Homo sapiens: one gene and its partner. The protein of the gene in region 1 purifies or fractionates together with the protein of each later gene. This does not show direct contact. Each region holds a gene or a part of one and is shown in the gene's direction. Other genes may lie near its edges.

Region 1 (3,160 bases):
CCTGTAATCCCAGCCCTTTGGGAGCCAAGGCAAGAGGATTGCTTGAGCCCAGGAGACCAGCCTGGGCAACATGGCAAAACCTTGTCTCTATGAAATATAAAAAAAATAGCTGGGCTTGGTGGTGTGCACCTATATTCCTAGCTACTTGGGAGGCTGAGGTGGGAGGATCACTTGAGCCCAGGAGGTCAAAGCTGCAGTGAGATATTTGCACCACTGTGTTCCTGTCTGGGTGACAGAGCAAGACCCTGTCTCAAAAAAAAAAAAAAAAAAATCATAAAAAAATATAGATTTTTTTCCAAATATATTTTTTTATTTTAGGTACTTTTACAAGTTAATAAAAATACTTAAATTTAAACTAGAAACAGGCAAGAGATATGAACAGATGAAAATAATGACAGCCAGGACTAAAACTAGTTGATAGATATCTTTTAGTATGTGATTCCAGAGTTTCTCAGAATCTTGCCTAAGAAAATGGCCTCCTCCTAAATTTTACTGCCATAGCGAGGATTGGGAACTTGGACTGTTTTCCTTTTTGGTGGGCAAATGTACCTTGACTTTTTATTTTTTAGAACACGTCTTTATTTTGACAGTGTTCAAAAACATTGCTTTATGAAGAAATACATAATAAATGACTTTATTTTTCAGTAAACAAGATAAAGCTGCTTCTTCAAAAGAAAAAAATGGATGTAATGCAAATTCATTTGAAGGCTCATCAACAACAAAAAGTGAAGAAAGCATAACAGTTTCAGATAAGGAAAATGAAACCTGTCTTGCAGACCAGGAAACTGGCTCAAAAAACATCGTCAGTTGTGATTCAAATATTGGTGCAGATAAAGTGGAAAAGAAAAAACAAATACAACACGTTTGTCAGGAAATGGAGTTGAAGATGTGCCAAAGTTCAGAAAACATAATCTTATCTGATCAGATTAAAGATCACAACTCCAGTGAAGCCAGATTTTCTTCAAAGAATATTAAGGATTTGCGATTAGCATCAGATAATGTAAGCATTGATCAGTTTTTGAGAAAAAGACATGAACCTGAATCTGTTAGTTCTGATGTTAGCGAGCAAGGCAGTATTCATTTGGAACCTCTGACTCCATCCGAGGTACTTGAGTATGAAGCCACAGAGATTCTTCAGAAAGGTAGTGGTGATCCTTCAGCCAAGACTGATGAAGTAGTGTCTGATCAAACAGATGACATTCCTGGAGGAAATAACCCTAGCACAACAGAGGCAACAGTAGACCTGGAAGACGAAAAAGAAAGAAGTTGAAATTAGTCATTTTAAGTTTCAGTGTACCAACGATAAGGGCATTTGGAACAGTGCTATCAGGTGAGCTCAGTGGTGCTGTTGTAGGTTCAGAAATGGAAATATGTAAGGGAGGTCACACATACACTTTACCTGTATGTTCAACCTATGTTATCAAACAAATCAATTCACCAATAATAGCATGATTAGTAGGGATTCCCAAAAAGTTTTTAAAAACACGAACAGGATTTTAATGATAATTAAATTTGCAGTGGAAAGGTCTCATTTAATGGTTTTCAAGGAAATGGGATTTGGTTGCTGACATGAATTGATGATATTAGTAATATTTATAAAGCCTTTCAAACTTCCATCAATCCTAAGCTAAAAATCTTTATTACCTGTATATCCTTTTCAGTTAACTGAGAGGAAGGGATTTGGAAACCATGTACTTTTGGGGAGTAATTGATTAAAAACAATGGCTGATTGGCATTGTTAATGAAGGCTTTATTTGTGAGGATGATGCTGGTAAATGGAGCATGCTTAGAGTACTAAATTGATCTAATGAGAATTTGGATGAACATAAACTTAATTTTGGATTTAATATAACATTCCAGTCAGACGCATGTAAACAGAATATTTGAATCTTTGTACCTCCATACAAGTGTTAGCCTGCCAGGCTGTAAGCTTACCTTAATTAAACTTTCAGTGAAAGTGGAATTATTAAGATATAAATTTATATTTGTGCTTTTTGTCAGTGTGTAAGCTGTGTAGAAATTCTTTGATGTATTAGTTGTATTAATGTAAAGTAGAAACCCATTGTTGAAACTCCTGTAGCTATTATGCTTTTAATATTGTTTTAATGATCTTCCTTAGAAATAGGCCCATAAAAATGGTCTGGAAGCCAAACCAAAGTATGGTATAATGTAGATATTGTAAAGCAGTAAACTGAAAACATGTCCTGGCATGTATTCAGCCATGTTTAAGTGACTTTTCTGTAATTGTAAAATAAAAACTTCAAATGGGACCTAAAACAGTGATGTAAAAGAACTGGTTTTGGAAATTTAGCCTAATTTATCTATAAGATGGCTGCTAAATTGATTTTTCAGTTCTTTTTATCATCTAGAATATAATAGATATAGAAATGAATAATATGAAGAACAGTAGTTTGCTTTGAAATACTAATAAACTTTTATTTAAAATGCTTCATTTTTACTTCTTAAAATGTGCTTTGGATTCTTAAATTTTGTTTCACTGAATGTTCAATGTTTTAAATGGCGATTAAAATACTCTGCTGTATATAGTAGTTTTTGAGTAAATATTTGCAATAAAAATCTGCCCCCGAATAATTCTATTTTTCCAATCACTGCTTGATTCAGATTACCTTTGGTGCCTTTAGAAATTATATACTTGTTCAAGAAATTTAATATCAGTGTTAGTGGTGAGGATTCCATTCTACATTCTTTAACTGCTGATACATTATTTTAAATTAGGACTTAAAGTACAGGGGACAATATTGCTAATATTTATGAGAATAGATTTGCTTTATAAATTCTTTTACTTCAAGAGAAATAGAATTTAATATTATACTTTTCTATCTGCCCAACAATTTAAAGAGGCTAAATAGGCAAAATATATTATGAATTATTTGGAGTATTTTGGGGAGGAGAGCTAATATTTTTATCTTTCCTGCTCCCAAGAAAAGATAGGGAGAGAGGGAGCCATTAGCTCTCATCCTTCACCTTGTTAAAATGTAATTCTGTATCATGGAAGATTTTTGGAATAATATAAACCTTAGAAGAGCAGGGTTAGGAAAAACGCCTGTCTCTATAAGGACCACTTGTGAGTCTCATTCAGTCTGTTGCCACATTATCACATTATGACACCATAATCCCTTTGGAGCTTTGCTACATCAGC
Region 2 (3,826 bases), on another chromosome or scaffold:
TGTTCATTAGTGCCTGGCACATAGTAGGCCGTTCAGATTGTTGATGAATGAATGATGAATAGGGGAGCTTTGAGATCCATTCTGAGAACTCAGCCAAATTAATGTGCATAGTAGTTTGCTTGTCCTGTGTCTGTGACATTTGGCAGAGTTAAGCTGTTGCTTTGCCATGTTTGTCTTAGCCTCAGTTAGTTTCTTTTTGTTTGTTTGTTTGTTTGTTTTTTGTTTTTTTAAGACAGAGTGTCGCTCTGTTGCCAGGCTGGAGTGCAGTGGTGGCATCATGGCTCACTGAAGCCTCAACCTCCTGGACACAAGCAGTCCTCCCACCACAGCCTCTTGAGTAGCTAGGACTACAGTCTCATGCCACCATGCATGGCTTCTTTTTTGTGGGGACAGTCTCTGTTGCCCAGAATGGTTAGCTTCAGTTTTGTACTCACTCTGGTACTAAATATAGAAAAGGTATACAGGCTGTGCAACTGGCCGTTTTAAATACCTCAGGCCTCAGATTCTGGGTTTTGTCAGCAAGCAAATAGCTTGAATATATCTGTTTTAAAAGAATCTTGAAAAATCTTCTGTGTCCTTTGTATTGACCTGAGCAATAATTTACCAGTAGCAATGTCTGTTGAAAAATTGAATAGCCTTTCCAAGGTTATTTGGAGAAGTTACTCAGATATGGACAAAATTTAGATCTTGTCAATATTTGCATAGAATAACTTGTATTAAATCTTTCCTGCCTTTAGCATTTATACTTTGATGACCAGAAGGGGGCAACCTAATTTGTCTGTGAAATTGTGCCTTTTAAAATAATAGTTGACACTTTGAGTGCGTAACAGAACTATGGTATTAATTTTTTTTTTTTTTTTTTGAGACAGAGTCTCGCTCTGTCGCCAAAGCTGGAGTGCAGTGGCGCGATCTCAGCTCACTGCAACCTCCGCCTCCCAGGTTCAAGCGATCCTCCTGCTTCAGCCTCCGGAGTAGCTGGGACTACCAGGGGGCCCCGACAACGCCCGGCTAATTTTTGTATTTTTAGTAGAGATGGGGGTCTTGCCATGTTGGCCAGGCTGGTGTTGAACTCCTGACCTCGGGTGATCTACCCTCCTCGGCCACCCAAAGTGTTGGGATTACAGGTGTGAGCCACTGCGCCCAGCCTATAGTATTAATTTTTAACTGACAAGAATGGTGTATCCTTATGGGGTACAATGTGGTGGCGTTTTTTTTTCTTTTTTTGAGACGGAGTTTCGCTCTTGTTGCCCAGGCTGGAGTGCAGTGGCGCAATCTCAGCTTACTGCAACCTCCGCCTCCTCGGTTCAAGTGATTCTCCTGCCTCAGGCCTCCTAAGTAGCTGGAATTACAGGCGCCTGCCACCACGCCTGGCTAATTTTTTGTATTTTTTTAGTAGAGATGGGGTTTCATCATGTTGGCCAGGTTGGTCTTCAACTCCTGACCTCAGGTGATCCACCCTCCTTGGCCTCCAAAGTGCAGAGATTACAGGCGTGAGCCACCACGCCCAACTTGTGGTGGGGGTTTTTGAACTTTTATTTTTCTCACATAAATAGAGGCAGGGACTCACTATGTTGCCCAGGCTAGTTTCGAACTCCTGGCCTCAAGTAATCTTCCCACCTCACCCTCCCAAAGTACTGGGATTACAGACATGAGCCACTGCACCTGGCCCACTGTGGTGGTTTTTGTTTTTCTTTTCTTTTTTTAGACAAGTCTTGCTCTGTCACCCAGGCTGGAGTGCAGTGGTGCACTCCACTCAGCTCACTGCAGCTTCCACCTCCCGGGTTCAAGTGATTCTCCTGCCTCAGCCTCCTGAGGAGCTAGGAATACAGGTGCACACCACCATGCCCAGCTAACTTTTTTTGTATTTTTAGTAGAGATGAGGTCTCACCATGTTGGCCAGGCTGGTCTTGAAATCCTGACCTCAAGTGATCCACCCACCTCAGCCTCTCAAAGTGCTGGGATTGCAGGTGTGAGCCACCATGCCTGGCCACTGTGGTGTTCTGATACGTTTCCAATGTAGTCATAATTCTGGTCTAGCTTTCTAACCACTTTTATTTTATCTTAAATTCACCTTTGAAAGATAGCTTGAGGTATCTCTGTGTCCATACTAACATTTGTAGACTCTTGTGGCCTCTCAACCCAAAAATCTGTGTCAAAATATCCATGTCAACATACTCAAGGGGTTTTCCAAGTTTCAGAACACATCTCAGATAAAATTCAAAATGTATTCGCACACCAGCATTCTAGCCTTTGATCCTCTGGAATTCAAGGGCTGGTGTTCCTTTAAAAATGAAACTCCTGACTGGGCGTGATGGCTCACGCCTATAATACCAGCACTATGGGAGGCCTAGATGGGTGGATCACCTCAGGTGGGAACTGAAGACCAGCCTGACCAACATGGAGAAACTCCGTCTCTACTAAAAATACACAATTAGCTGGGCGTGGTGGTGCATGCCTGTAATCCCAGTGACTCGGGAGGCTGAGGCAGGAGAACTGCTTGAACCTGGGAGGCGGAGGTTGCAGGGAGCCGAGATTGCACCACTGTACTCTAGCCTGGGTGAAAGAGCAAGACTCCATCTCCAAAAAAAAAAGAAACTCCTGCTAACTGTGTGTGGCATAAGTTCTTGTTTTCTGCTTAGTCAAGTTTTCCATCTGGAAAGCATTTGCTTCGCAAACAGCCACAGCTTACAGACTACAAGCAGTTTAGAAACAAGACTACCACCTGAATATACTACACATGCCTTCACCTGCCTTTTGATGATTGGTATGTAGTTGCTGATTCTTTCAACAAAAGGTACTTCTTTCTTGTTTTCTCTTTAGGGCTTATGGATCAGATTTATCTTGCTGCTTATTCCCTTAAAAGCTTATAGCTTTGGAATTCTATTCCCTGATGCTTCTGAGACAGTCATCCTCTTTTTTTTGAGATGGAGTTTTGTTCTTGTTGCCCAGGCTGGAGTGCAATGGTGCAATCTCAGCTCACCGCAACCTCAGCCTCCCAGGTAGCTGGGATTACAGGCGTGTACCACCATGCCCAGCTAATTTTGCATTTTTAGTAGAGATGGGGTTTCTCCATGTTGGTCAGGCTGGTCTCGAACTCCCAACCTCAGGAGATCTGCCTGCCTCAGCCTCCCAAAGTGCTGGGATTACAGGCGTGAGCCACCGCGCCCCACCTGAGACATCCATCTTTATTGTCCATATAGGGTTCAACAACTTGTTCAGGTTCCAGACCTACCTTTAATTGTATGTGCAAGTAAAAATAGAAACAGAATGCTTTGGGAACCCCAAAGAAAAGAGAAATATTATTTAGCTAGGTTGGGTAGGCTTCATGGAGAAAGTAGCATTTTTAAGCTGGGTCTTGAAGAATGGATAGGATTTTGACTGTTGGCCCTGTACAGGAGCACACTACTTTCTTTTTTCTTTCTTTTTTTTTTTGAGGCAGAGTCTTGCTCTGTCACTGAGGCTGGAGTGCAGTGTCAAGATCTTGGCTCACTGCAACCTCTGCCTGCCTGGTTCAAGTAATTCTTGTGCCCCACCCTCCCAAGTGGCTGGGATTACAGGCATGCACCACCACACCTGGCTAATTTTTGTATTCTTAGTAGATATGGGGTGTCACCATGTTGGCCAGGCTGGTCTTGAACTCCAGGCGTCAAGTGATCCACCCGCCTCGACTTCCCAAAGTACTGATTTATAGGTGTGAGCCACCAAGCCCAGTCAGGAGCACACTTTTTTTTTTTTTTTTTCCTTTGAGACAGAGTCTTGGTCCGTCACCCAGGCTGGAGTGCAGTGGCGCGATCTCAGCTCACTGCATCCTAACCCCGTTTTCCGG

The links.
Region 2: the proteins of ZNF280D (region 1) and CBX1 purify together in Homo sapiens (affinity purification with mass spectrometry; 4 studies listed by BioGRID and IntAct, with this or other methods). This does not show direct contact.

What each region holds. Positions count from the first base shown.
Region 1 is NC_000015.10:56,629,608-56,632,767, reverse strand, and holds the end of ZNF280D (zinc finger protein 280D), read left to right. Parts: intron 1-645; coding exon 646-1,270; 3' UTR 1,271-2,592; downstream 2,593-3,160. UniProt on the Homo sapiens protein: May function as a transcription factor.
Region 2 is NC_000017.11:48,094,653-48,098,478, reverse strand, and holds part of CBX1 (chromobox protein homolog 1), read left to right. Parts: intron 1-3,826. UniProt on the Homo sapiens protein: Component of heterochromatin. Recognizes and binds histone H3 tails methylated at 'Lys-9', leading to epigenetic repression. Interaction with lamin B receptor (LBR) can contribute to the association of the heterochromatin with the inner nuclear membrane.